4 separate regions of the Homo sapiens genome follow, and all the other regions are linked to region 2. The links come from fine-mapping of genetic effects on gene expression. A gene starts in region 2. Each other region holds a variant in brackets. All regions are shown on one strand. Distances are between the middles of the regions.

Region 1 (7,456 bases), 41 kb after region 2:
GCCTCCAGGCAAAATTAGTACCTCCTCTTTTTGCCTCAGCTTTTCCACAAGTCTATTTGAACACATCCTTTGACCCCTTTTATTGGTGTGATTTGAACCAGGCACAGTGGCTCAGGCCTGTAATCCCAGCACTTTGGGAGGCCAAGGCGGGAGGATCACTCGAGTCCAGGAGTTGGCGACCAGTCTGGGCGACATAGCAAGACCCTGCCTCTGTTTTAAAAACTTTTTTTTTTTTTGAGACAGAGTCTTGCTCTGTCACCCAGGCTGGAGTGACGTGGCGCAAACTCGGCTCACTGCAAGCTCCACCTCCTGGGTTCAAGCGATTCTCCTATCTCAGCCTCCCGAGTATCTGGAATTACAGGTGCATGCGACCATGCCCGGCTGATTTTTGTATTTTTAGTAGAGACGGGGTTTCACCACGTTGGCCAGGCTGGTCTCAAACTCCTGACCTCAGGTGATCTGCCAGCCTTGGCCTCCCAAAGCGCTGGGATTACAGGCATGAGCCACCGCACCCAGCCTTGAAAAAACAATTTTTTTAAGTAATTAAATATTAGTGTGATTTTTTTTCTGTTCTTCCTCCACTGTTCCCCAAGCTATAAACTTCCCTACAGGGCAAGAGTCTTCAAGATCTTTCTTTCTACCCAGGTGCCCAGAACAGTGTCTGGCACATTGTAGGCGCTCAAAAAAATGCTTACTGCCTCGGAAACCTGACCAGAAAAGGCCAACTGTATGTGGGGTGGGGAAGGGAATGAGAAGGGTTAACCTTTCTCCTCCACCTTCAGCTCTGTGTCAGATGATATACAAGTGGAGACTGAATCCCGTAGATTTATAGTGTGTTTTATGATGATATAAACAGAGCTTTTTTGTTATTATTAATCATCCCATTTATGCATTTCAAAAATCCACAAAAATTCATCATTAAAATTTGTTTCATACCTTCTCATCCTTTCTCTCAATAACGTAGCAGTGTTAGAATTTTGTCTCAATTCGTCATGGCCTTCAGGTAGCACTTGTCTGCTGGACACAGAGGGACAGGAATTCTCAACCTGAAGACTGCAAGTTTCAGCCACCTATGAAGTTTCAGCATCCTGATGTTGCAAAATGGTACATATACATGTGTACCTATATACATTTTTTTTTGAGACAGAGTCTTGCTCTGCTACCCAGGCTGGAGTGCAGTGGCATGATCTCAGCTCACTGCAACCTCCACCTCCCAGGTTCAAGCGATTCTCCTATGTCAGCCTCCTGAGTAGATGGGATTACAGGTGTGTGCCACCACACCCGGCTAATTTTTTATATTTTTGGCAGAGATGGGGTTTCACCACGTTGGCAGGCTGGTCTCAAACTCCTGACCTCAAGTGATCTGCCTGCCTTGGCCTCCCAAAGTGTTGGGATTACAGGCATGAGCCACCACCCCTGGCCCATATATGCATTTTTGGATAGGGTGATGGTCTGTGATTTTTCAGTCAGATGCTCTCATGGGTTCCTGACCTAACAAAGGAGAATGACTACATTCAATAGAAGAGGTGCAAAATAATGAGAAACACTAAGTGTTCACTGAGAACTCTTTCTTTTCTTTTTCTTTTTCTTTTTTTTTTTTTTTTTTTGAGACGGAATCTCACTCTGTCACCCAGGCTGGAGTGCAGTGGCGCGATCTCAGCTCACCACAACCTCCGCCTCCCAGGTTCAAACAATTCTCCTGCCTCAGCCTCCCGAGTAGCTGGGATTACAGGCATGCACCACCACGCCTGGCTAACTTTTGTTTTTTTAGTAGAGATGGAGTTTCTCCATGTTGGTCAGGCCAGTCTGAAACTCCTGACCTCAGGTGATCCACCTGCCTCGGCCTCCCAAAGTGCTGGGATTATAGGCGTGAACCACTGTGCCTGGCCTAGTGTACCCATTCTTTAAGGCCCCACTCCTGTCCCTTCTCCCTACCACTGTCCCTGCCTCTTACCCAACCAGTTGTCTTTCTCTCTTGTAAACTCCAACATTTCACATTTATCTCTTGTTATATGTGGCTAGTAACCATTGATCACCTTCCTTATGTTTGCTCATGTTTTACCTTCCCAGCTAGTCTGTATGCTTCTCGAAGGCTAGGCTCATATTGCACATCATTGTATCTTCTTTGCCCTCTGGAAGGCTAGGATCATATTGCGCATCATTGTATCTTCTTTGCCCTCTGGAAGGCTAGGATCATATTGCGCATCATTGTATCTTCTTTGCCCCCGGAGCATGGCCTGCCTAGAGGGGATATTTGGTCATTTCTTTTTCATTGATTGGTTTTATAACCACCATAATGTTTGAACTCCTTAATGTGGCCTACATGGATTGGTCTTTGCCACCCTATTTGGCCTCATTTGTGTCTCCTCCCCCTTTACATTTTATACCTAGCCATCCTCAATACCAGCCAGTTCCTTAGAAATTCCATGGGCCAAGCACAGTGGCTCATCACACCTGTAATCCCAGCACTTTGGGAGGCCGAAGCGGGCGGATCACCTGAGGTCAGTAGTTCCAGACCAGCCTGACCAACACGGTGAAACCCCATCTCTACTAAAATACAAAAATTAGCCAGTTGTGGTGGTGCACGCCTGTAATCCCAGCTTCTCGGGAGGCTGAGGCAGGAGAATCGCTTGAACCCAGGAGGTGGGGGTTGCAGTGAGCCCAGATCGCCCTACTGCACTCTAGCTTGGGTGACAGGGCAGTGACCCTGTCTCAAAAAAAAAAAAAAAGAAAGAAAGAAAGGAAAGAAAGAAGGAAGGAAGGAAGGAAGGAAGAAAGAAAGAAAAAAAGAAAGAAAGAGAAAGAAAGAAAGAGAAAGAAAGAAAAGAAGAAAGAAAGAAAGAAAGAAAGAAAGAAAGAAAGAAAGAAAGAAAGAAAGAAAGAAAGAAAGAAAGAAAGAAAAATTGCAGCCATGACACCTCACACAGCTTCCTCTGCCGGAACACTCATCTCCTCTTCTGTCTGGTTGACTCTTCTCAACATTTGCATCTCAATCTGGGAATTACTTCCTAACGAGAAGTCTTCCCCTGGACTTCATCAGAAAGTACAAATTAGTAAGATTGCGCCAGCAAAATGCGTAGTGTGTGAGAAAGCACTTAGCAAGAGGAAATGAGAAACATTCACGTCCACTTACTCATGAGCTTGCTCCAGCTTCTTCTTCTCCTGTCCCCTAGTTCCCTCTGGATGTCAGCCATCTGAAATTACTCACAGGACATCTGAATGCACTTTGTTTTATCATA[CAAAG/C]TGTGCCTTTGTACACACTTTTCTTCCGTTTTTTTTCTTCCTTTTTTTTTTTTTTTTGGAGGCCAAGTGCACTGACGCCATTTCGGCTCATTGCAACCCCTGCCTCCTGGGTTCAAGCTATTCTCCTGCCTCAGCCTCCCAAGTAGCTGGGACTACAGGTGTGTACCACCATGCCTGACTAATTTTTGTATTTTTAGTAGAGATGGGGTTTCACCATGTTGGCCAGGCTGGTCTCGAACCCTGACCTCAAGTGATCCACCCACCTCGGCCTCTCAAAGTTCTGGGATTACAGGTGTGAGCCATTATGCCCAGCCTGTACACACTAAACATTTTTCATTTTTTCATTCTTCCTAGGATTCCATTTAATCCATGCCCTTCCTTCCTTCCTCCTTCCCTTCCCTCCCTTCCCCTCCCCTCCCCTCCCCTTCTCTTCCTTTCTTCCTTCTTTCTTTTCTCTTTCTTTCTCTTTCTTTCTTTCTTTTTCTTTCTTTCTTCTGTTCTTTCCTTCTTTTGTTCTTTTCTTCCTTCCTTCTTTCCTTCCTTGCTTCCATTCTTTCCCTCTCCCCCCGCCTTCCTTCCCTCTCTCTCCACACCCCTACCCCCGCCCTTCTCTTTCTTTTGAGAGTCTTACTCTATTGCCCAGGATGGAGTGCAATGGTGCCATCACAGCTCACTGCAACCTCTGCCTCCCGGGTTCAAGTGATCTTCGTGCCTCAGCCACCTGAGTAGCTGTGGGATTACAAGTATCTGCAATCAGGTCTGGCTAATTTTTGTATTTTTAGTAGATATGGGGTTTCACCGTGTTGGCCAGGCTGGTCTTCAACTCCTGGCCTCAAGTGATCCACCCACCTCGGTCTCCCAAAGTGCTGGGATTAAAGGCATGAGCCACCGCGTGGCCTAATCCATGCCCTTTCTTCACCTAATTAACTCCTACTCATTTTTCAATGCCCAGCCAAGGGGTTTGTATAATGGTGCAATTTTTGTTTGTTTGTTTGTTTTATGAGACGGTCTTGCTCTGTCACCCAGGCTGGAGTGCAGTGGTACGATTTTGGCTCACTGCAACCTCTGCCTCCCCGGGCTCAAGCAATTCTCCTGCCTCCCTCCCGAGCAGCTGGAATTACAAGTGCACACCACCACACGCTGCTAATTTTTTTGTATTTTTAGTAGAGATAGGATTCCACCATGTTGGCCAGGCTGATCTCGAACTCCTGACCTCAAGTGATCTGCCTGCCTTGGCCTCCCAAAGTACTGGGATTACAGGCATGAGCCACTGCGCTCGGCCAAATGGGGAAAATTGTAATAATTTCTACCTCCGAGGGTTGTTGTGGGAATGAAATGAATTAATGTCTATACAGTTCTTTGACTTCTTCCTGGCATATAGTAAGTGCTAAATAATTTTTAGCTATTATCAGCAACAACATCATCTTCTCTTTCATCATTATTATCAGTATATGTAATATACAAGTCTCTTGTCATTTTTCATGCTATATAGTAATTGCTTTTCATGTCTGTCTCTCCACCATCATATGTGCTCCTTTTTGATCGAATGATCCTCAAATAACGAGGTCATTCTACAGGCCCTAACAAAGCATCAACAGTCAAGGTTTGGAGCTACAGAAATCCTACAGAGAGCTGTGAAAAGAAAAACGTCAACTGGATGAAAAGGCTGTGGGAAAAGGAACAAGTAAATAAGGTTAGAAAGAATGCCTTAGAAATAGCCACAGGACTCATTCACTATTGATCACAGTGCAAGTTGACACAACCTTATTTTGTCAGGCATTTTGGTGCTTCACACGAAAATGTTATTTATTTATTTATTTATTTATTTATTTATTGGAGACAGAGTCTTGCTTTGTCACCCAGGCTGGAGTGCAGTGGCGCAATCTTGGTCACTGCAGCCTCTGCCTCCCAGGTTCAAGCGATTCTCCTGTCTCAGCCTCCTGCATAGCTGGGATTACAGGCACATGCCACCATGCCCAGCTAATTTTTGTATTTTTTTAGTAGCGATGGGGTTTCACCATCTTGGCCAGGCTGGTCTCCAACATCTGACCTCAGGTGATCTGCCCGCCTCAGCCTCCCAGAGTGCTGGGAATACAGGCGTGAGCCACCACACCCGGCCAAAAATTTTAATTACATATATCCTTAAACCGAGAAATATCACTTTTAGAAGTCTATTCAATAAAAACAATTTCTCTGGTATACAAAGATACATGAAAAGGTTAACCATCACATTACTTGTAAGAATAAAAAATTTTGAGAGGCTGAGGTGGGTGGATCACCTGAGGTCAGGAGTTTGAAACCAACCTGGCCAACATGGTGAAACCGCGTCTCTACTAAAAATACAAAAATTAGGTGGGCATGGTGGCGCACACCTGTAATCTCAGCCACTCGGGAGGCTAAGACAGAAGAATCACTTGAACCTGTGAGGCAGAGGTTGCGGTGAGCCAAGATCATGTCACTGCACTCTAGGTTGGGTGACAGAGCGAGACTCCGTCTCAAAAAAAATAAATAAATTTAAAAAAGAATAAAAAATTGGAAACAGCAGAAATGCTCATCAAGGAAAGATTAATTAAATTAATTGTGGGATTGTGCTGCATCCATACAATGAAAGACTATGGAACTATTAAAAAGGAGGTAAAGCTCTCTGTCTGGAAGCCAGAAGTCCACAACATATAGTTAAATGAAAAAGCAAGTCGCAAAATAGTCTAAATTTATTAGCCCAATTTTGGGGTCAACTTTATTGAGGTACAATTTAAATGCAATAAAATTCACCAATGTTAAGTGCACAATAAATGAGTTTTAACAAATATACCATCATATAGTCACTACCACAATCATGAAATTGATAGGATATTTTCATTACCCCCAAAAAATTACCTTGAAACATTTTTCAGTCATTCTACACCCCTACCCTCTGCCTCCTGGCAACCACTAATCTGCTTTTTATAACTAAGATTTTGGACTTTTTTTTAGCACTTCACATAAATGGAATTATATAGTAGATAGTCTTGAGTCTGACTCCTTTCACATAGCATGAAGCTTTTGAGATTCATTCGTGTTTTACATATCAGTGGTTCATTCTTTATTATTGCTGAGTAGCATTTCACTGTAAGGTTTTACTACATTTTATATATTCATTTACCAGTTCTTGGGCATTTGGATTGATTCCAGTTTTTAATGAGTATGAATAAAACCACTATAAACATTTGTGTACAGATTTATTTAATTTAACTTTTTATTTTGAAATAATTATAGATTCACATTATAAGAAATAATACAGAGATTGTTTCCTTACTTATGGAAGAAAAGAAAAAAAGAGAGATCCCTTGATCCAGCTTCCCCCAGTGGTAACATCTTGTAAAGTATAGTAACATATCACAACCAGGCTGTTGACATTGATGAAGTCAAGACACAGAGCAGTTCCATCATCACTGGGACCCCTTGTGTTGCCCTTTTATAGCCACACTCACCTCTTTCCCCGCCCCCAGCTCCTGGCAACTATTAGTCTCTTCTCCATAATTTTGTCATTTCAAGAGTGTAATATAGATAAATGTAAGCATACAATATACAATATACAATTTGTAAAGATTGGCTATTTTCACTCAGCCTAATTCCCTAGGGATTCATTACATATGAGATTCATTACATATACACACACACACACACACACACACACACACCAATAGCTTGCTCCTGTTTATTGCTGAGTAGTGTTCCGTCCTGTGCATATACCATGACTTGGTTTTTGGCTATTATGAATAAAGTCGCTATGAACAATTGGTGTGAATGTAAGTTTTCTTTTCTCTGAGATAAATGCCCAGGAGAGCAACTGTGGGTTGTATGGTAGTTTCATGCAGTTTTATTTATTTATTTATTTATTTATTTATTTATTTATTGAGACGGATTCTCCCTCTGTCACCCAAGCTGGAGTGCAGTGGCGAGATCTCGGCTCACTGCAACCTCCGCCTCCTGGGTTCAGGCAATTCTCCTACCTCAGCCTCCCGAGTAGATGGGACTACAGGCGCGCGCCACCACGCCTGGCTAATTTTTTTGTACTTTTAGTAGAGACAGGGTTTCATTGTGTTAGCCGGGATGGTCTCGATCTCCTGACCTCGTGATCCACCCGCTTCAGCCTCCCAAAGTGCTGGGATTACAGGTGTGAGCCATCACGCCCAGCCCGCACGGTTTTATTTTTAAAAACTGCTAAACCTTT
Region 2 (7,456 bases):
GAGCGAGACTCTTTCTCTGGGGGGAAAAAAAAAGAAAAAAGGACGGGGTGCAGTGATAAATGCCTGTAACCCTAACACTTTGGGAGGCCAAGGCAGGCAGACTGCTTCAGTTCAGGAGTTTGAGACCAGCCTGGGCAACACGGTGAAAACCCACCTCTACAAAAAAAAAAAAAACTAGCTGGGTGTGATGGTGCACACCTGTGGTCCCAGCTACTCTGGAAGCTGAGGTGGGAGGACTGCTTGAGCCCAGAAGGTCAAGGCTGCAGTGAGCCATGACAGAGCCACTGCACTCCAGCCTGGGAGACAGAGCAAGACCCTATCTCAAAAAAACTCAACATGGTTTTGACGACTACAGATTTACTCTCTCCATAGGCCAATTAGCTTCATTTTCACAAAAACTATGTTCCAAAACCAAGGCTAAATCCCATCAGCTACCTCTTGGATCCAGATGAGATATGGCATATTCAGAATACATTCAGAGGTAACACCAAGAAGAAATTTAATTTCTAATTTCTTCTGGCTACTCCAGGCACACTGCCTATCGAGCAGCCCTGTTCTGCAAGAAGCAGTATTAAAAAATGTTTTTAAAACTTTAAAAAATAAGAAATGTGATTCTAAGGAGGGAGAGAGAAGGGAGAAAAGGATGAGTACAACATATCTAAGAGTTAAACTGAGCTATATTTGAATGGATGATAAATGGAATAGGAGTTGGCAGCTTATCACCTATCAAAGAAAACAGTCAAAACAGTTCACAGTTGTGTGCTAAAAGAAGGTGATCTAGTGTGTGACACCTATTAAGATGACATATCTGATTTATCACCAGAATCTGAGGTTCAGAGATGTTATGTTGCCTAGTCACATACAACTAACCTTATAAACCCAGAGACAGAAACCTCTGTGTTAAGCACATTAACACAGAGCTAGGTTTCTGTCTGTCTTCAAAGTCGCTTATACTGTAAGCTCCTTAACTTCTTTAATTTTTTTTTTAACAAAGAAGAATATTGTTACCTGAAAGTGTTGAGGATTAGTTGAGACCATATGTAAAGAAAGGAGCACTTTTCCTGGCACATAATGGTTTCTTTCCTTCTTCCATTCCATATATTGAATCAAACTATGCTTGTATAACGTGGTGGTTTTGTAACTACTGTGAATATGAGGTTTTAGAATATGAATATGCTTTATTCCTAAGATAAATAGTAATCTTAGGACATAGGCACTATATCATATTACTATGGATATACAACCTACTCAATGGTCAAACTCAGTGAGAATAAGCAGTGATGGGGACGCCCTATGGAACTTTATCTTTATTCTGTCTTTTTTCTCAGTCTCAGTGATGTTGGAAATAAGAACTTTATACTTGTGAATGACAACAAAGTGGTTTATAATCTCGAAAATCTTGAAGACAGAAATAGGATTTCAAAATGAGCTCGATAATGTGGTTTATCCAAAGCGGATTCTGTGTGTTGTATATTTGGTGACCTAAACTAACTATGTAAGTATCAACCGCCAAGCTCGGTGGCTAGCGCCTGTAATACCAGCACTTTGGGAGGCCTAGGCAGGAAGATCACCTGAAGTCAGTAGTTCACGACCAGCCTGGCCAACGTGGTGAAACCCTGTCTCTACTAAAAATACAAAAAATTAGCTGGGCGTGGTGGCACACACCTGAAATCCCAGCTACTTAGGAGGCTGCGACAGGAGAATCGCTGAAACCCAGGAGGCAGAAGTTACAGTGAGCCGAGTTCACACCACTGCACTCCAGCCTGGGCAACAGAGCAAGATGCCATCTCAAAAAAAAAAAAAAAAATTTAAAGCAACCAAATAGTGTCACTTTTCCTACCCAATCCCCTGACCAAAGCCAGGCATTGTTGTTCTAACAAGGCTCAAAATCTCAATTATTTCACTCTCTGCCTGATCTAATGGTAGGATAATGCAAATCAAAGATACCAGCAAAAGTTATGTTCTACAACAATCATTAATAATAGGTTTACTACTTCGAACAACTTCCAAGCACTGATTTGCCTTAAAGGGGTTGCAAACCAGGATGAGATGCCCACACACATTGATTTTTGGCAACTGTAGTCTATTAAGCAAAGCAACAAACCTCTAGAGAAAATAATGTCACATATATTCCAGTGAAACAAAATTAATACATGTACCTTGGTAAAGAGGCTGAGCTCTAACCAAAGATAGAGCACTGTTCATTACGTACTCACCCTTCAAAGGAATCAAATCGAAACACTTTCATTTTAACAACGATACTTTTTAAAGGCTTTATTTTGCAATAATCTTTCAAGTCCCTGCATTTCTTAGATTCCTTAAATTCTAACTTCCTGCCTCATAGATCTAAAGTAGCCATGACATACCCAGGTATGTTCTACTCATTTAGTTAGAATCGTATAGAGGAACACAAGTCTGTTTCTAGGTGTACGACTCCACACCCATTCATTTTGCACTAATATAACCACTAAATATAGCTCTAAGACACTGATGATTAAAAGCGGCTAATTATGTGAGTGATTCATACCTCCTATGTCCAAACACCAAGATTCAGGGATGTCTGTCAGATCTATGGGAAGAGGAAACAATAAACACCTGTCACAAAGCTTCTTCCACACCGGGAAGCCCCCAGCTGAGTTCCTGCCAATCCCAACCCGATTCCCTCCCCCTTCATCCCTACCCCTCACCTCCCCAAAAAAGCCAGAGGTCATACTTCCACCAGAACCTGACTCTGTGAAGGGAATGGAGAGACAGAAAGGCCATAGCGAGAGTGGCCACGAGAGCACTGCTAGGGCAAAGGGCCCTGGGTTTTTCTAGTCCTCACTGCCACAGAGTCCGAGTGGGAGGCCTCAGGCAAGTCAGAAGTCACTTTTCCTCCACGGGACTCACTCCTTTTATCTGTGAAATGCGGAGATGGCAAGCAGCTCCATACTCCACGGCTGAGGACGAGCTAGGGTCCCGCACAGACTCATCGAGGGCCCTGCCAGCACCCCTACGCCTCTGCCCACAGGACCTCCACCTCCCACAGGACTTTCCGAAAGCTCTGACTACCAACCACCAAGCGCCCGGCCCCCACGCTCGCCCCCGGCAGGCGGCGCGTCCCCCCCAGGCCTTCGCACCCACCGCGTGGGCTCCTGCCCTGGCCTCACCTGCCCCCGACACTCCCCGTCCCCGCGATGCCCAACTCCGGCCCGAGAAGGCTGGCCGCGACCTCGCCCGGTACCCGCCGCCCCGACACCACCATTCGCCTCCTCGACCTCCCCCGGCGCCGCTGCCCACCCGCCCCTCGCCCCGCTCACCGGGGCCGCTCACTGGCCGCCGCCGCGCCGCCTCCTCCGCGGCCTCCCTCGCGGCCGGACCAGCCCCAGGGACCGCGGGGGACCCGGCCGCCGCTGTCGCCGCCGCCGCCTCGCCTCAGCCCAGCCCCATCGCCCTCGGCCGGCGCCGCGCGCTGCGGCTCAGGGTGAGGGAAGGAGGCGCCGCGGCGGGGCCGGGCCGGCCCTGGGACGTCCGCGCTCTCCTCCTCCTCCGCGCCCGCGGCGGCGGCGTGCAGCCGGCAGGGCGAGAACAAGGGAGGGCGGCGGGAGGTGGGCAGGGGAGGGGGGCGGTCTGCACTCCGAAACGGCCCCCCCGCCGCCAGCGACGTAGAGAACCCCCCTCCCCTCCGCGGCGGCGCCCGATCACGCTGCGGGGAGAGCCGGCAGGCAGGCGGGGGAGCGCGCGCGGGCTCAGGACTCCCGCGCCGGATGTGAGGTCACGTGGTGGCTTCATCCCCGCGCGGAGGGCGGAGGGGCGCGGGCGACGTCAGGAGGCGGGGAAGGGGCGGGGAGGGGCGGGGCGATTTATAGGCCCCGCCCACCCATCGCCTTTGCCACCCTCGAACGGGCAAAAGAAAGAAAGAGGCAGGTAAGGGGAGGCGAGGCCGTCCAAAAACGCTGGGTGTCAGCCCGGGGTGGCTAATGGAGGGCGGCTTTTCTGGTGGGATGAAATGGAACGGCAAATCCCACTTCATCCCCTTTGGGCTATGACAACATCATAGTCCAATCTCCCATTTTATGAACAGGGAAACTGAGGCTCAGTGACTAGACAGACGTTGCCCAGAGTCATGGTCATGGAGGAAGCTTGTGCTAGAATGGTGGAGAGGAAACCAGAGCCCAGCTCCTAATGCAAGGCTCTTTCATTCCTTTAGCCACCCTCGCCCCCGCCAAAACAAACAGACAAAAAACTGTCATTCTCATATGACCACGGACTCTGCGCCCCGGCCGCAGGCGGAGGACAGGGAGGAGCGCACACGAGAAAGCTCCCACGCGCCCGCGCCTCGCCTCCGACGGGAAGGCGCCTCTTCCGACCGTCCTGGATGCAAATTAAATACTTCCCTCCGCAGAAGACTTATCTCGGGGTAGGGCCGCAGCCGGATTTCCAAATCGCGGGTTTGATTTTCGCTGCGTCCTCTCCGCGACGCGCGCAGGGAGCGCGCCCGGCCACCTGCAGCCTCTGGCTGCGGCCATCTTTCCGCCTGGGGCCACCTGGCCTGCGCCCTTTGTGCCCGGCCCGCTCCGTGACTGTTCTTCTTGCCGCTACTTACAGAACTCAGCCGCCTTAGCGTCTTAGAGAAGAGGACGGCATGCATGCGGACCCCGTCCACCACACCTGGAGAGCAGGGAGCCCTTAGTCCCTGGACACTTACCAGGGCCGCCACCCCTGGTCCACGCACGTGATGACATCTCACCAGGGGCAGCACACCGCCCGAGTCCGCGACACTGATAACACCTCCTGCGGGCAGGAGGGCGCCACAGCCACCCCTGGTCCCCTAGATTGTGTGAGGCTAGCATTTCTGCCCGCCTCTTGGCGTGGACAGCACGCTGGACCGAGATGGAACCACAGCTTTCTCTTCCCAATCCCTGGCCTCACCGTTTTGTTTCATACCTCACCGTTTGTTTCAAACCTCGTGGTGTTGAAATGATTAAATGAGATTAAGGGGTGTGTGGTAGTGTTGGGCAAACCACAAGAAAACGGTCTGGGTGGGGTCTGGCCCTAAAATCTTCCTCCCCCACCTCCCAGGCTTCCTTGCCTTGCTGCTTCCTCTCAGCCTTTAAACAGGTTGGCCTCTCCAAGTCCTAAAAACAAAATTATCAAGCCAACCTCCTCCTGAAGTGCTCCCTCCAACTAGCTTCCAAGTGTTTCATGCGGACCTCAAACAATGGTCTTCCCTGGCTGCCTCTGCTTCCTCATTTCTCAACACTTGGCATTCTGGCTTCTCCTCCCCAACTCTAACCCTTCACCTTGCTCAGGCAAGAGCAACTCATGACTTTCATTTTGCCAAACCTTGCAGGCATTCCTCAGGCCTTATCTCTCTGGTTCTTTCTGCTACATTTGACACCTTGGGATGACTCTCACCTTCTGGAATCTCTCTACTACCTTGGTTTCAGAAGAGTGAACCCTCTGGATTATCACATGAAGGTAAGTAAAGCCTCTGCCTCCTTGGTAACATCTACTTGTGAATCTGCACCTTAAATTCAGGATTCCACTCTAAGCCAACAACTTTGCTCACTTCACTCATTCTTCTGGGATTGCCTGCATCCTCATGGATGCAGCTCCCAAATTAGCAATTTCCAACCCAGACCCCTTCCACAAAATTTAGAACCAAATATCCAATTGCCTGCCAGGCAGCTCTAGCTAGATATCACAGACACCCCAAACTGGACATTTCCAAAACTGAACTCATTCTCTGCTTTCATAGCTGCCCCTCCCTCAGCTGTTGGCACCACCATCTCCACAGTCATCAGAATTAGAAAGTTGGGAATGAGTGAGTCATTCTTAATTCAGCCCTCTGCCTTACCCAATCACCAAGTCCTATCTATTTCACCTCCTTAATAAGCCTCAAATTCCTATGGTGGGCTGGGCGCAGTGGCTCATGCCTGTAATCCCAGCACTTTGGGAGGCCGAGGCTGGTGGATCACACGAGGTCAGGAGTTCAAGACCAGCCTGACAACATGGTGAAACCTCATCTCTACTAAAAATACAAAATTAGCTGGACGTGGTGGCACATGCCTGTAATCCCAGCTACTTGGGAGGCTGAGGCAGGAGAATCGCTTGAACCTGGGAGATGGAGGTTGCAGTGGGCTGAGATTGCGCCATTGCACTCCACTCTGGCCAAGAAGAGCAAAACTCCATCTAAAAAAAAAAATTCCTACGGTGGTTCCCACTGGCATCCATCCTTTCCAGCCTGAATTGTTAGACAAATTCAGCCTTCAGAGTGAACTACAATGCACTCCATTTAAAATCCTAAGAGTTTCCCTAGGCTTCTGGCTGCAGTGTATACCTCCAAGCTACCCAGCATGAACCTGTCAACGCGTTCGGGCTTTTAAAAGATCACAAAGAGCCCCAGAATTCGAGGTGCAGCCAAAGTAAGGCAACATACAGCCAGTCAAGGGAAAGCTATAGGAAAAAGAGAAAAGCAGTTGGATATTCCAAAAACTTTTCTGTTACAGATGTTTTGAGAATGGTGAAAAAAGGAATTTGGACACTGGCTTTAGAGGAAGTGCTGAGTCACCAGGAAAGGCTTGAGCATGTTTATGGGTTGAGGGAAAAGAAGGTGCAAGAAAAAAGGAGAAACCCAAGATAGGCGAGAGAAAGGGAGTGGAACAGTCTGGAGAAGTCCTGGAAGACTTACTGGTTCTCAAGTCATGATGATTCTGGGTCCAAGCCCACTGCTTCCCCCCTCTGATCCTACTCACTGTAAGCACCAACCCTGATTGCAGCTGCATGGAGGTAACAGTCATACCAGTAAGGTCTGACGTCACTTCTCAGAAAGGCTATTTTGCATCTTCTTCATCCTCAAAACCCCCATCTTTGCATGCCCTTCCCTCTCACTGTCCCCTTACTTCCTATTTCACTAAGAAAACATACACCATCAAGAGGAAAAATCCTCATCTTCCCACCCGCAAATCTGCGCATCATCCTACATCGGCCCCAGGATCTATTTTCCCACTCCAGAGAGGCAAAGCCTCCTCCTAACAGAGCTAGCTCTCCACAAAATGACCACTGTTAGGCCAACTCCAGGGGCTAGGCCTCCCCAAAATATTACTGTTGCCAAATCCGGAGGACACTTTGCAGGCCTTATCTTTCTAGTTCTCTCAGCAGCATGCATCTCCTATCCTTGAGACACTTTGCTGTTAGTTTTGATAACATACTCTATTTTGGAATTCCTCCTCCCTGTTTCTCTTTGTCTACTCCATCTCAGCCTCCGCAGGTGCTTCCTCTGTCCTTCTCTAAATGTTGCTGTTCCCCAAGGCTCAACCCAGGATCCATTCCTGTGTCTACACAAGGTTTGTTGTGTTTTTGTTTGTTTGTTTGTTTTTAATTTGACATCTCTTGACCTTACAAGAGTTGTGGATGGGCTTCAGAAGGATCTATAAGCTCCTTAAACTTGGATGCAAATACTTTTAAAGGAAGA
Region 3 (7,456 bases), 51 kb after region 2:
GAAAAAAATAATTATACATAATAGCTGAAATACAACATTAGGGAAATTTCCCAGGAAATATAGCAAAAAGATAAAGGGATATAAAATAGTAGACAAAAGGTTAGGAAGTTAAGAGTACTAGTTCAGGGGATCTTATATCTGAATACCGGTGTTTCCAGAAAGAAAAAAGAGAAAAGAAGGGACAAAGCAATCAATGTCATAATTCAACAATAGAATGAACTGTGATATTTAAGAGCCAATAAGTAGCCAGCATCATTTTAGGGAGGAAGAGAAGATTTCATTGCCTCTAGAGATGAAAAAATTGGCTATATACAAAGTTTAGGAAGCAAAATGGATTTGGACTTCGCATCAGCAACACTAGAAGCCAAAGCACAATGAAGCAGTGCCTTTAAAATTCTGAGAAATGTAACTTGCAATCTGGAATTCTATACCCAGCCATACTATCAATTGAGTATGAGAGCAGAAAAAAATATGTTCAAGTATGTAAGATTTCAAAAACTTTTATCTATCATGCACTCCTTCTCTATAAGCTACCGGAGAAGATACTCCACGCAAAGACCAAGTAAATCCAGGAGGAGAATCTAAAATAGGAGAGAAGCAAGGAGATTCCCTGGGAGGATAGTAAGGGGAAATGCCATGATAATCGCTGTGTACAACATGTGGAGAACAACCATTTCCATGTGGAAAACTGTGACTCAAGAAACAGGTTGAGAACTGTCATCACCCAAAAATCCTCACTGATATCATACCTTGTTCAAACTTGAGGACGATTTATCCATATTTGTCACAGTTTCATTACATATTATGGAAATTCCCACTCACCTCTCTACACTCTGCTGGTAGAATCGGCTGAGCGTATTCATTTCATAAAACAGCCCGTTTCTGAAGTGTTGTGCTTTAGGCCTACTCTTGAGAGCTGAATGTAGGCTAATGAGCTTAAAAGCAGAAAATACAAAGCATCCTTCCCCCTCTGACCCTATTTCTACAGGGTCTTCAGTGCCTGGCCCATCCTGCAGATCTGCCAGATGCCCAGACACAGGTGAACCCTCATGGTTAGAGACTTATCCACCTGAAACTAATGAAACGGAAGCCCTTTATTCATATATGCCCTCCCCAAGGCCCTGTACCTAATTTAGTATTTGTAATTTTGAACTTATAATCTTACAAAAGGGTCCTCCAAATTATATAATCTTCAGACCCCACAAATCCTAGATCTGCGCCTGTGTACGATTGTTTTTTTCTTTTTTTTTGGCTTTCTCCCCTCCAATTAGGAAGATAGATGCATGTTTTGTTCTGGTTTGTTTTCTTGTTTTGTTTCGTTTTTGAGACGGAGTTCCGCTCTTGTTGCTCAAGCTGGAGTGCAATGGCCAATCTCTGCTCACCCCAACCTCCGCCTCCTGGGTTCAAGCAATTCTCTTGCCTCAGCCTCCCGAGTAGCTGGGATTACAGACACACGCCACCACAGCTGGCTAATTTTTTGTATTTTTAGTAGAAACGGGGTTTCACCATGTTAGCCAGGCTGGTCTCAAACTCCTGACCTCAGGTGATCCATCTGCCTCGGCCTCTCAAAGGCTTACAGGCGTGAGCCACTGTGCCCAGCCTTGTTTTTGTTTTGAAATGGGGTCTCACTATGTTGCCCAGACTGGACCAGAACTCCTGGGTTCAAGTGATCCTCCCATTTCAGCCTCCTGAGTAGCTAGGACTACAGGCACATGCCGCCATGCCTTGCTCTTTGATCATGATTTTGTCCTCTGACTTCTCCAGAAGAGGCTTTTAAAGACTCAGGAAGGTTGAAATTACATTATAACCCAGCAACTCTATTCAGCTTGTTTTCCATGACCCAGCAACTCTATTCAGCTTATTTTCCCAGGAAATCTCATGTAATACTGGCAACAGTGCTCTTTCCTTACACAGCTAGCTTTGTGCTAGCCACTCAGTTATTCAAATCCAACCAGTAGATTGTTTAGGGATATGTCATATAGAGGGCAAAACTATAAAGCAAACAGTAACGACTGACATTAAAGGTAGTACCTGGGGAGGATGTGGTGCCCAGGGAAGCAGAGATTGCAGGGAGGCACACAGCTGAGCCTCAAGGTACTAGTGGGTGATAGGTGTTTGTCATTATTATTATTATTATTTTGAGACAGAGTCTCGCTCTGTTGGCCAGGCTGGAGTGCAGTGGCACGATCTCGGCTCACTGCAACCTCCATCTCCCAGGCTCAAGCAATTCTCCTACCTCAGCCTCCCGAGTAGCTGGGATTACAGGAGTGAGCCACCACACCCGGCTGATTTTTGTATTTTTAGTAGAGATGGGGTTTCACCATGTTGGCCAGGCTGGTCTCAAACTCCTGACCTCAGGTAATCTGCCTGCCTTGGCCTCCCAAAATCCTGGGATTACAGGCGTGAGCCACTGTGCCTGGCCTATTATTTTATTATTTTGAAAGAGGGTCTTGTTCTGTTGCCCAGGCTGGAGTGCAGTGGCGTGATCACAACTCACTGCTGCCTCTTGAGCTCTTCCCGCCTTAGCCTCCTGAGTAGCTGGGACTACAGGTGTGTGCCACTGCACTCTGCTAGTTTTATTTTATGGTTTTGTTTGTTAGTTTGGTTTTGTTGTTGTTGTTATTGTTGTTGTTGTTGTGTGTGTGTGTGTGTGTGTGTGTGTGTGTGTGTAGAGCTGGTGGTCTCATTAAGGTGCCCAGGCTGGTCTCAAACTCCTGATTTTAAGCCATCTTTCCACCTCAGCCTCCCAAAGTGCTGAGATGACAGGTGTGAGCCACTGCACCCGGCCTCGTTATTTAATCTTTAGATTGTACACATACTTTTCTCTAAATATGATACATTTTATAATTTTAAAGCCTGGAGAGGTGCCTGAAGGCTACTGTTTCCTCTCTTGGTTCAGGGCTGCAGCCAGAGAATATGTGCAGAGTCACTGTCAACAGCAAGTTAAGTATAAAAGGAAATAATGATTTTCTAACATTCTAATAAACCTGTGCTAGTTAGAGAGGATAGTGGTTACTGCAATAGAGTCCACTGTTTGCACTGGGAAGGGGTAAAGTCCAGCTGCCTTTTTCAGGCCCTCCTGGTAGAACAGCATTTTTCTGGCCCAGAGAGCATTCAGAATTTGGTCCTTACTTCCACATGTCCAGAAACTTGATTTTAGCCACTCCACTGGGACTTCTCATGCTTAGAGGGAATGCCTATGAATGAGCAGCCACTGTGAGCTCCTTGAGGGCTGAGATCATGCTTTATCCATCTCTAAATTCCCATTGCCTAGCAAAGAACCTACCTACAACAACAGAGTCCAGGGACCTTTCTGGCAACTTGCATACTCGTGTGTTCCAGACAGAACATGCATGCCTGCTCTGGAGGCACAGCTCCCTTCCTGGGGCCTGGTGGCCTGACCCTGAGGCTTAGCCCAGAGGTTAATCGCCCTTCCACCAAGGATACAGCACACCTACCTTCCTACCAGCCTCCTCATGCTGTCATTTACCCAGGCCAGGACTGGCTGCCAGCCCTGGCACAGTGCCATGCTCATAAAAAGGGCTCAGGAAATGGAAGAAGAAATATAGAAGCCCAAGTCAGAAGGCAGACTTTCTTTTCCCCCACATGGGCTACTTCGTGGTCTTTGCCTTATCTTCACATATATGATCGATCCCCCAGCCCAGCCGATAGACAGGCTTAGATATGAAGCTTCTTAGAAATGCTTTTCCGAGTAAGGTTCTGCTCTGCTTGTAGAAAGTGATGGAGAAAGTGAATGCCACCCAGCCAAATACACTCATTAGTTTACCCAGCAAAGAGTGCAGCAGTCAGAATTTCAAACACTGGAGGAAGCGGTGAGGACAAAATCCAAAGCCCTTGCCAGTCACAGGGGAGTAATTTGACCAGTTATGACCATGCTCTTCCTGCTCACAAATATATGCTGACTGCCTTCGGGACAAGCAGGTGGTTGCTTTGCCTGGGGAGCCACCAAAGCTGTGTAAGGCCTGGGCCACAGCCAGAAATAGTTTAGATTCCAAAAGCTCAGAGTCAAGGCTGCGAGAGCACTTGTTTAGTCCATCAAGAAGCAGATCAAGAAGAGAAGTGGCTTAGAAAGACAGTGACGGGGTCGGGTGTGGTGGCTCACGCCTGTAATCCCAGCACTCTGGGAGGCTGTGGCAGGCAGATCACTTAAGGTCAGGATTCCGAGACCAGCCTGGCTAGTATGGTGAAACCCTGTCTCTACTAGAGATACAAAAATTGGCCGGGCGCGGTAGCTCACACCTGTAATCCCCGCACTTTGGGAGGCCGAGGCGGGCGGATCACCTGAGGTCAGGAGTTCGAGACTAGCCTGACCAACGTAGAGAAACCTTGTCTCTACTAAAAATACAAAATTAGCCAGGCGTGCTGGTGCATGCCTGTAATCCCAGCTACTCGGGAGGCTGAAGCAGGAGAATCGCTTGAACCTGGGAGGCGGAGGCTGCGGTGAGTCGAGATCA[T/C]GCCATTGCACTCCAGCCTGGGTGACAAGACTGAAACTCCGTCTCAACAACAACAACAGCAAAAAAGAGAGATACAAAAATTAGCCTGGTGTGGTGGCACACACCTGTAGTCCCAGCTAATTGGGAGGCTGAGGCAGGAGAATCCTTGAACCTGGGAGGTGGAGGTTGCAGTCAGTCAAGATTGTGCCACTGCACTCCAGCCTGGGTGACAGAGTGAGACTGTCTCAAAAAAAAAAAAAAAAGAATGAAAGACAGTGATGGAACCAAGCCGAGGATGAAGGACTCCCAACTGCCACATGTGTATTATTGTGTCTGTTACGCTCTGCATCTCTGGTCATTGCAGATCCCATGGTCAAGGGCCTTCGTCCTGCCATAGCAAGGTTTGAGTCTTCTAATTGGCATTCACATGAGGTTTATGTCTATGTAACTGCAAAAAAAACTTATTAGCTCAACTGGCCTGTTGAGTGGATAAATAGTGATTACTCTTTTCTGATTTTATCTTTGTAATGTGACAAGTTTGTGGGGTAGAAATTCTAATTTGCCATCTATTTTGCATTTATTTACATAATGAGCTCCCAAGCCCCTGAGGATATACCATGAATTAATTAGTGGAGTCTGTAATAGCCAATTCCAGTTCTGTGGAGTATTAGGACACCCACAATAAAGAGAAATGCATTATTATTATTATTTTTAGCAATTGATATACCCTAGAGGTACTAAAGCCTTTTCAGAACAAGGTGTGGTGTATATAAATGACTATGTTATCCATGTCCCGATTTAGGAAAGGAGATATTGCAGAAATTGAAGTCTGTTACCTTAAATGCCAAGGGGATTCGGCATTTCTGTCCTCCCCCTGGCTTATTCTGAAATCGAGGTGAGATGGGAAGAAGGGTAGTGACTGAGGCAGAAGGACAACCTGATTTCTAATCATTCATTCACTGGAACAACATTGCTTGAGTCAATCTATGTGTAAGGCTTTGTGTGAGGGGGTGATAGATCATTTAATAGGACCCAGGAGATCATGCTTTGAAAAACACCTGATATCTTGCATGTAGTGAAGAAAAGACACCTGCAAAAGTACCCGCTGACCCTGGGGTGGAGGTGTCCTCACCCAAAGGCCTCAACTGCTGACTTCTAGTCAAAGCTTCAACACTCACTTGCTGTGTGACTTTGAACAAATCACTTCCCCTCTCTGATCCTCAGTATCCTAGCTGTGAAATTAGAGGCAAGGAAGAACTCGCAGAAGGAATGTGGCATGTAGAAAGACCCAGAAATCCCTCTCTATGTTTTAGTCTATGGCTGTCCTCTCCATAAGGACAGTTTCAAACCTTCTCCATTCTGCTCAGATCTCCAAATCTGCACCCGATTCTCCTCTCTCTTAGCAAATGATCTGATTCCCAACTTCATAAAGAAAATAGAAGTTTCAGACTGGGTGCGGTAACTCATGCCTGTAATCCCAGCACTTTGGGAAGCCAAGGCAGGTGGATCACCTGACGTCAGGAGTTCAAGACCAGCCTGGCCAACATGGTGAAACCCCGTCTCTCCTAAAAATAAAAAATTAGCTGGGCATGGTGGCAGGCACCTGCAATCCCAGCTACTCGGAAGGCTGAGGCTAGAGAATTGCTTGAACTTGGGAGGCAGAGGTTGCAATGAGCCGAGATCGCAGCGGTGCACTCCAGCTTGGGCAACAGAGTGAGACTCCGTCTCAAAAAAAAAAGAAAGAAAGAAAATAGAAGTCTGTTGGTGTCTGGCCAGGGTGGCTCATGCCTGCAATCCCAGCACTTTGGGAGGCCAAGATAGGAGGATCACTTGAGGCCAGGAGTTTGAGACCAGCCAGGTCAACATAGCAAGACCCTATCCCTACAAAAGTAAAAAATAGAAATCTCCTGTGAGAATTGCCTCACCCTCCTGTGCCACATCTGCACCTCGTGTTGACGGAGGGAGCATCCTTTCTCATCGATGTTTAAACTACACACATTCCAGCCATCCCCATCGTAACACAAAACAAACTGATGTCTTTGTTGCTCCCAAGTTCCCCTCTGGTTGCTCGTGTATCTTTTGCTCCCTTTCCAAATGTCTTGAATGAGTTGTTCACACTGCTTGTCTTCATTCCTGACTTTCAGTCATTTCTCAGCCACCTCCAGCCAGCTCCCTCCACTGGCTCCTCCACTCCCACTCTGCCAGAGCTGGATTTGTTAAGTTGGCCAGGGACCTCTGCTGCGTGAGGAACACTGCTCGCTCTGACTTCTCAGCAAAACACAAAGCGCAGCCAGCCACTTCCTCCTTCCTGAAACACTCTCTTATTGGCTTTGAGATGCCAAACTCTCTGATTCCTCTCTGACCACTTTTCAGTTTCTTTTGCCTATTTCTTTAGCTGACTATTAAATTTGGGGGATCATAAGACCCAGTCCTGGGCCTAATTCTCTTCTCACTCTGCACGTTATCCTTAAGCAATGTCACTCATTTCCAGGTTTAAATCTGGAATCGAATCCCTTGCTTACCGGTTCCTAAGTATTTGTGATATTATTTGAGAGGGAGAAAGAGAAAGAGAGGTTTTCATCTATGGTTCTTGGTTCGTAACTCCCATAACCCTTGTTGCAGTATTTTGCTGTAACATAGGGGCATTTTAGGCCTCAGAAGCAGGCCTCAGAAAACAAAATCTCTCTGACTTTTTTTTTTTTTTTTTTTTTGAGACAGGGTCTCACTCTGTTCTCCAGGCTGGAGTGCAGTGGCATAATCATGGCTCACTGCCCCCTTGCCCTCCCCAGGCTCAGCGGTAGCCTCCTGAGTAGCTGGGACTACAGGTGTGTGCCACCACGCCTGGCTAATATTTTTTTGTATTTTCTGCAGAGAGGCAGTTTTGTTGAGTTGCCCAGGCTGGTCTCGAACCCCTCGTCTCAAGTGGTCCTATTGTCTCGGCCTCCCAAAGTGCTGGGATTGCAGGTGTGAGCCACCAGGCCTGGTCTCACTCTCTGACTTTC
Region 4 (7,456 bases), 44 kb before region 2:
CTTCTTCAGTTGCTTCTTCCAGAATCTGGAAAAAAAAAAGAGACAAAAAAAAACAAAAACACAACATTCAAGCACTGCTTCATAAAACTGAATTCATGGTTCCATTTTTAAATAGAACATTATGGCCATTTTCAATAATTAAAAAAAATGTATGTCCAAGGAACAAATGAGCACTACTGGATCACTAACATAAGTAAAAGAAAATATGAACAAAGATGGTGAGTTAGATACCTAGCAACCCATGGGAGAAGGGTTGCTTCATTCAGGGTTAGAAGCAGAATAAAGAAATAGAAACTGATCTCACTTCACTCTTACAACTTGTTGGGTTTAGAGACTAGCTCTGCAAAAGATAAAAGGTTCTTGTAGTCCCCAGAATTTTCAGGCTCATCCAGTGATTCCTTTCTGCTACCAAGAAAGGATTCAAAAGTACATAGAGCTCAGATATGGTTAGCAGAACCGCTGGGTCAAGAACAGGCTAAAGCACAAAGATATGAGTTTAGAGTTTCTCAGCTTGAATACTTCCAGTTAAGCTAATACTTTAAAGAACCTTTTTTGGTGAAAAACATTCGAAGAAAAACGTATATTAAACACACACTATAATTAGTGGGATCAATAAATGAGAAAACAATAGGGAACTGTGAAAAATTAGCCAATTTTGTACAATTCTAAGACACCTTTTTTCGTATCTTAACATCTCTAAAACTGGGATGCATCTTGTATCATATGACATCTGCATCTTGTATCATATGACACCAATCACATCAAGTCACAGTTGTGACTGGCTATGTGAAACCATTTCACGGATAAGTAAGCTCTGGTGGGATCAAGCATCAAAGCAACTCAGGGCCAATGAAATATGCCATTATACACATTTTCTTAATTTCTTTGAAGATACACCAACACTGAACACTAAATCTACTGAAAATCTATTCAGTTGGAGAAAAGCTTAGAGAAGAACGATAAATCAGCCCATTTTTGTTATTCTCTCTATAAATGAAGTGAGGCCTCCTTTTCAGAATTAAACTTCAAGAGTGTTTACCATGGACTTTCAGTAGTTGGCAGATGGAGCACTTATCCAGTCACCTCCTCCCTCTCTCCCTTTCAAAATGTGGGTAGGGAGGGAGGGAGGTGGGGAGGCAGGGAAGAGGGAAGGGAGGATCCTGTAAATGTAAACAGAAAACAAACCTGAAGGAAGGGATTTCAAATATGGAAACAAAGGGCAAACTGAAACCTATGGATGGATACAAACGGGAACGAAACAGTAGCCCAGAACAAACACAAGATACCAGGTGAGGCAGGAACACTTATCAGCCAGAGTAGCTGAGCTAAAGAAAGCCAAACAAAAAACCAGGGAGTCCTCCTCCAGAGACATAAACTGAATGTCTGACAGAGCAAAGGCTGCTGACATGAGGGTGAGGATTCCAGAGTACAGAGCTCCACATGTGCAAGCATGGTGAGAATGGGTGAGGAAAGCAACGGAGAGGCTAACTCTGAAACTATTCCTTTGAAACTTTAAGAACCCCTGTCGATAAGACCCCACCAGACACAGAGCAAGCACCATCCCCCATCCCCCAACAAGCCTTCACGATCAGAAACACTAACATACATATGGGCAAGGGTAAAATTTGAAGTAGCTCACTGCAGCTATGCAGAATTACCAAATCAGATCTTCATTTTTAGAGTAAAAAAGTGCCATCCAGATGTACAATGAAAACCAAGAGCATGAAGGAGAGACACCAGCCATGGGGTGGGGGCCAGAGGAGACCATAACCTCAAAGAAAATAAATAATTCAGAAGCCAGAAGGGAACTCTAAAATGAACTGACTTTGTATTTATAAAAGAAGAACTGAATGCTGTAAAATGATAACAACCAGAGAACGTAAGCAGGCACTTAGAAATTAAAAGTCCCAATGGCAAAAATAGAAGGAAGTTATAAACAAACAAAAACATGTGCATGTATGTGGACACAGTAAACAAAAGACAGGTAAAAAAGAGCAATGAAGACAAACGACTTTATACACCTTTGCCTGTGGCCAAGAAATTGTGTCAGTTGAGATCATCTTACTGGCTCTGCTCTACCCTCCCCAAGTTGCTGACCCCTGGTTTACCTTAAACACAAAGCAGGGGCCTGAGCTGGTCAGCCTCTATTAAAGGTGTACTAAATGGGTTAACTAAAAGTTACTTTTGCATGATTTTTAAAATATTTCTCCAGTTGATGTAGCTTTAGAAATTACATAGCTCCTTTTAGGGTACAAGATAGACTGTCATTAAAACAAAAAGCAGAAATAATCCTTGTATGAGGTAATTTAATTTTTAACTATTATTTTCCTAAAGTTATTTGTATTTTAAAATATTTGACTTACCCATCCAATAGCCTCAAACATTTTCAGATCAAGTGGATCACCAGAGAGCACTCCTTCAATTTTTGTAAGTGAATGACAAGTAGCCATACAAGCAACAAACTGGGATTTTACCAACATCTCATTGCACACATTTTCTTCTGGTGAAAGAAATCTAAGCAGAAGACACACTGAATTAGTTTCATAAATTCTAAGATTCAAGATAATATTCTAACAGGGCTTTTCTGGTTTTGTAATTAAAAAAAAAATCTTTTAAATCCCAATCTGAGCTCCTAAGAAAGAGAAACTGTCAAGTGTCAGAAATACAGGGAAAAGAAAACCAGAGGGGTGTGAACTTGAGCTGATGCTATGGCTGCTGGGGGGATGAAGGGAGGGGGCCATCTCAGTAAACTAAGAACTTGGGATTTAATACCCACAAAAGGACAGGAAACAAAGTCTGGCCCCATGCAAAGTGGGTAGCTGGTACTGAAAGGATCCCTCTGACTCAGGAAAGCCAGTACTCTTGAAGAGCTACACGCCCTTGGGAAAAGGGCAGATGAGAAAAAATTCACCCACAGACCTAAAGGCATTAATTATGAATAAGCTTGTCTTTTTCCTCACCCAAAGTCCAAGAAAATAGCTAATATCTGCATAATATTTACTATGCACCAGGCATTATTCTAAGAACTTTAAATTTATTGGCCCATTATCCTCACACCATAGAAAAGGTGTTTTATTACCCCCATTATAGATGAGAAAACTGAAGCAGGGTGGTTAAGTGACTTGTCCCAGGTTACACCGTCCATAAGTAGCAGAGCAAGGATTGAAACACAGGAGGTCAGTTAAAGCCTGTATGACACCGTTGATTACCACTGGGGCTCTTAGCCAAGCAAAGTCAGAACTTCTCCAGAGGGGAGCTCAAAGAAAATTCTGTTAAGAATGAGTCCATAATTTAAAGATGCGCTAGCAAACAATTCACCAAGAGTGTCAACAGACATAACAAAGACAGAATTAGAATCCTATAAATTTGGCCAGGGGCAGTGGCTGATGCCTGTCATCCCGGCATTTTGGGAGGCTGAGGCAGGAGGATCATTTGAGGCCAGGAGTTCAAAACCAGCCTGGGAAATATAGCGAGACACCCATACCAATTCCTATGTTTAAAATAAAAAAATAAAGAATCCCGTAAATTTAAGATAACAGAATGGCAAATCTGAAAGAATGCAAAAAGGGCATTTTAAAATTAGACATACAAAGAGTAAGACACTGTAGATGCGAGAGTAGGGGTGGGAGCAGACTTGGAAAGAACCAAGTAAACCATGTGTTGTCCAACACATGGTTAGGATTCCCAGAAGGAGAGAAAACAAAACACAAGGAAAAGGCCATAATGGAAGTAAAAAAGGCCTGAAAATTTTCCAGAATTTATGAAAAACATGAAAGCATGAAATCAAGAAGCATCATGAATCCTGTACACACAAATAAAAAGATCACAGTGAATCTGCAGAAATTAAGGGTGAAGAAATATTCTTCAAGCAACCAGAGAAAAAAAAGATTACTAAAAAGACTAAGATTTATCAGTACCAATTAACAAAAGGTATTAAGAGAAATGAAATAACAGCTTCATAGTATTGAGAGAACACAAATGTCAAACCTAGAAATCTGTATAGTTACACTACCACCCAAGTGACAGTGGGCTGCTCTGCCTATGAAGGAACCATTCTTTATTCCTTTACTTTCTTAAATTTGCTTTCACTTAAAAAAAAAAAAAAGAGTGACAGTGAAACAAAGCAAATGAATGTAGTTACAGAAGATGGCAATTTACACAAGATGCAATGGTTAAGGCATTAGTACACCTAGGTAAATCTAAGC[A/G]TGCAGACTGTATAAGACCAAAATAATAATCAGAAAATATTATGCAACAAATACATATAGGAAGGGAGGAGAATAACCAAAAGTATCTTACAGTCCATAGGTTTGTTTTGGGGGGCAGGGGAGTGGTTAAAAGGCAGTATTAACATCCATGAACTTTAAGTATAAATATTGATAATGTAAGAACAAGCAGTATAAGATTGGGATGCATAAAGTGAGAAAATGAGAGAAAAAATGAGAATGTGAAAATGTGTATGTAAATTGGGGGAGCAATGGTAGAAATAATTTCTAATATATCTGAATAAATGTGCACATCATGGCACAGAAAGACTGAAAAGTAAACAAGTGGCAAAACACACACTAGGCAAACATCAGGCAAAAGAAAGCTGGTATAGAGCTATATAATTATAAGACAAAACAGAATTTAAGGCAACATGCATTACTAGAGATAAGAAAGGTCACAACGTGACATACTATTTTCCAAGACACAACAACTCTTGAAATTACATTGGCCAAACAATACTGTCTCTCAAGCTATATACACCAAAATTTAGCAGACTTTTGACAGGGGGAGGGGGGAAGACACAAACAAAACTACAGGAGTAAAACTTCTGAGCTTCAAAAAGCAACAGAAACAAAAGTAAAGAGATGAGCCAGAGACTAATAGGATAATTTTCAATACACAATATTGAAAAAGATTCCTATCCAGAAAATAAAAAAGACCTCTAACAAATAAGATAGACTTCCCAACAGAAAAATGAGGATATAAACACACAATACACAGAAGAATGCTAAATGACCCTCCCTCCAAAATGTGAAAAGATGCTCAATTTTATAAGAAATGAGAAGAATGTAAAAACCACAATGTAATACTCATATCCATCCATCTGGCAAAAATTACAAGTCTGACAATATTAAGTTTGGCAAGAATGTGGAGTAAAAAGATCTTTACCCACTGAGAGAGAAAGCATAAAGCTGAAGCCGTGCCCATGCTACGGCCCAGCCTTTCCATTTACAGGGATCTAGCTTACTGAAACTCAGCCACATGCCTACAAGGACTTATGTGTAAGAACTTTAATTCCAGCACTATTTGCAACAGTGCAGAGAAAAAAGAAGAAAAAACAGAATTGTCCCTTAGTAGAAGAACAGACAAGGTTTAATCATTCAATGGAATAAGACAGAGCAGTTAAAATTAATAAACTAGATCTGCACATATCAACATGGATAAATCTTGAAAACAAAGTTTGGAGAGGGGAAAAAAGCAGCAAAACATATGTACAGTATATCATTCATGGATACTTATTTATAGATTTATACTTAGAAAAAATATAAAATATGCAAAAATAATTTCAGAATGGCAGTAGGAATTGGGGAAGGGATACAGTGGGACTTTGGCAACTTCTATAATATTTTAATATTCTAAAGGAAGCGATCTGAAGCAAATATGGCAACATGTCCACGGTTTAATCCTGGTATAGGTACACAGTTGTCTATTACTTCCTTTATGTTTGAATGTTGCACATGTTAAAATATTAAAAATAAACTAATAAACTATCAAGTCTAACTAATATTTACCGTGCATTTTCCACTCGTTGAATCCCCCAAAGATCTAAACCATCTTCAGTTAGAGTTCCAGTCTAAAAAACAAAAAAGCACACATGCACAAAGTATGGATGATGCCTCAAAAAAAAACCCAAAAATAAAAATAAAAAGCAACCACACAGCATTAGAAACTATGCTACATATAACATAATGGAGTTCTACAGAGTTAAAAAAAGAAACAGGCAAGATCCCTGACAGAGAATGGCTTCCAGGACATATGGTTAAAGTGGGAGAGGGGGTGCAAACAATGATCACAAATCTTCTGCGTAAGGGCAGAGAGGGGTATATATTTACGTGCTTATACTATCAAAAAAAAAATCAATGGAAGGATGCACCAGTTAACCTATCTTATCAATCAATAAAGGATGCCTATAAAGCAAAAAAGGAAGGATTACTGTATAAGGAGGGCCAAGAGGAACAGGTTAAAGTACATCAGGAGGAAGCAACTGGCCAAATCCACAAGGTAAATGACCTGGTTTCTTCAACAAAATAACTGGAGATAAGGGGTAAGTAAAGGCAATTGTTACATGTTAATTGTAAGCAATGTAATCCCTATTTGGATTCTGACTGAAAAATCAACTAGTAAAAATTAGAGATATGAGGAAATCTCAACTGGATATTAGAAAAACTAAAGAATTGCTAATTCTGTTAAATGTGATAGTGATATTTTAAATATCCTCTAGACACATACTAAGGTAGTTATGAGTGAAATAATGTCTGATGCTGTCCCCTTCAAAATGAGCAGATAGATAAAATAAGACTGACAATGTGTTGATAACTGATAAAGCTGGGTAATGAGTAAATGAGTGTTTATTATACACACATCTTTTCTCCACTTTTGTCTTAAAACTTTTAGGAAAGTTTCCAAAAAAGACAAGCATAAGTGAAATTTTTTGAACTGATAAATATGAAATAATTGTAGCAGTATGTGACATATTTTTTTCTAACAGAACATGTTTCCCATTTTTTTCTGTAATAATGAAATGCACAAAAATCAAATTTGTATCACATCAGTTACCCAGAAAAGTTTGATAGAAGGTTTTCTGGTCAAAGTTTAATTCTCAGAAAACTTTAAAGAAAATTCCAGCTCAGGAAAGGAGAAACCTTTCTAAGAGGCAAGATATACTTCACACAGGTACATAATTTGTCATTTTCACATAAAATCAGTGACCTTCATAATTCTTAAACATATTCAATAAAATCATACAGCAAACACTAAACATACACACTTACAAGCAATAAAATCATAATAAATATATATGTATGGAGCCTATTGTGTTAAATAAGAATTACTGTCTAAAAAATTAAAGGTCACGTAATCTTTACTGCTACTACTATTAATACTACTAGGCCTAATTCTGGAGTTAACTGAAGCTTTGAGCAAATAAGCAATATCCAAAGTATTAAAAATTGAGAAAATAAGAAATATAGCATGTCCTCAAATACGATTGTTTTGTCCGTCTTTTTTTATAACACGATGGGTGCCAGTGGTGGGGAGAGCTGAGGCCCAGCCGCGACCACTATCTACATGGAGTTTGCATGTTCTCTCCCTGTCTGCATGGGTTTCACTCCAGGTACTTCAGTTTCCTCCCACATCAAAGCTACGCAAGTTAAGTGAACCAGCACATTTAAATGGTCCCAGTCTGCGCGAG

What was found.
Region 1: its variant is fine-mapped to the expression of ATP13A3 in whole blood (TOPMed, PIP above 0.99).
Region 3: its variant is fine-mapped to the expression of ATP13A3 in esophagus muscle (GTEx, PIP 0.91).
Region 4: its variant is fine-mapped to the expression of ATP13A3 in whole blood (INTERVAL, PIP above 0.99).

Annotation. Positions count from the first base shown.
Region 1 is chr3:194,524,213-194,531,668 of GRCh38, forward strand. No RefSeq gene overlaps it. Among named protein-coding and RNA genes, the nearest start is that of ATP13A3-DT, 41 kb to the left of the region's middle. The variant CAAAG/C (reference allele first, on the strand shown) is at 3,240.
Region 2 is chr3:194,483,267-194,490,722 of GRCh38, forward strand. ATP13A3 (ATPase 13A3) reads right to left here and starts at 3,736. Exons shown (of 34, transcript NM_001367549.1): 1 at 3,300-3,736; 2 at 2,528-2,569. It overlaps ATP13A3-DT (ATP13A3 divergent transcript), which reads left to right and starts at 3,874. Exons shown (of 2, transcript NR_033929.1): 1 at 3,874-3,906; 2 at 4,190-5,279. RefSeq lists silencers at 2,976-3,035, 3,126-3,175, 3,206-3,865 and enhancers at 4,536-4,755, 6,889-7,008.
Region 3 is chr3:194,534,024-194,541,479 of GRCh38, forward strand. No RefSeq gene overlaps it. Among named protein-coding and RNA genes, the nearest start is that of TMEM44-AS1, 47 kb to the right of the region's middle. RefSeq lists enhancers at 2,977-3,271, 2,997-3,291 and a silencer at 2,977-3,271. The variant T/C (reference allele first, on the strand shown) is at 4,476.
Region 4 is chr3:194,438,948-194,446,403 of GRCh38, forward strand. It overlaps ATP13A3 (ATPase 13A3), which reads right to left. Exons shown (of 34, transcript NM_001367549.1): 15 at 5,778-5,839; 16 at 2,364-2,514; 17 at 1-25. Among named protein-coding and RNA genes, the nearest start is that of GP5, 43 kb to the left of the region's middle. RefSeq lists a silencer at 379-579. The variant A/G (reference allele first, on the strand shown) is at 4,206.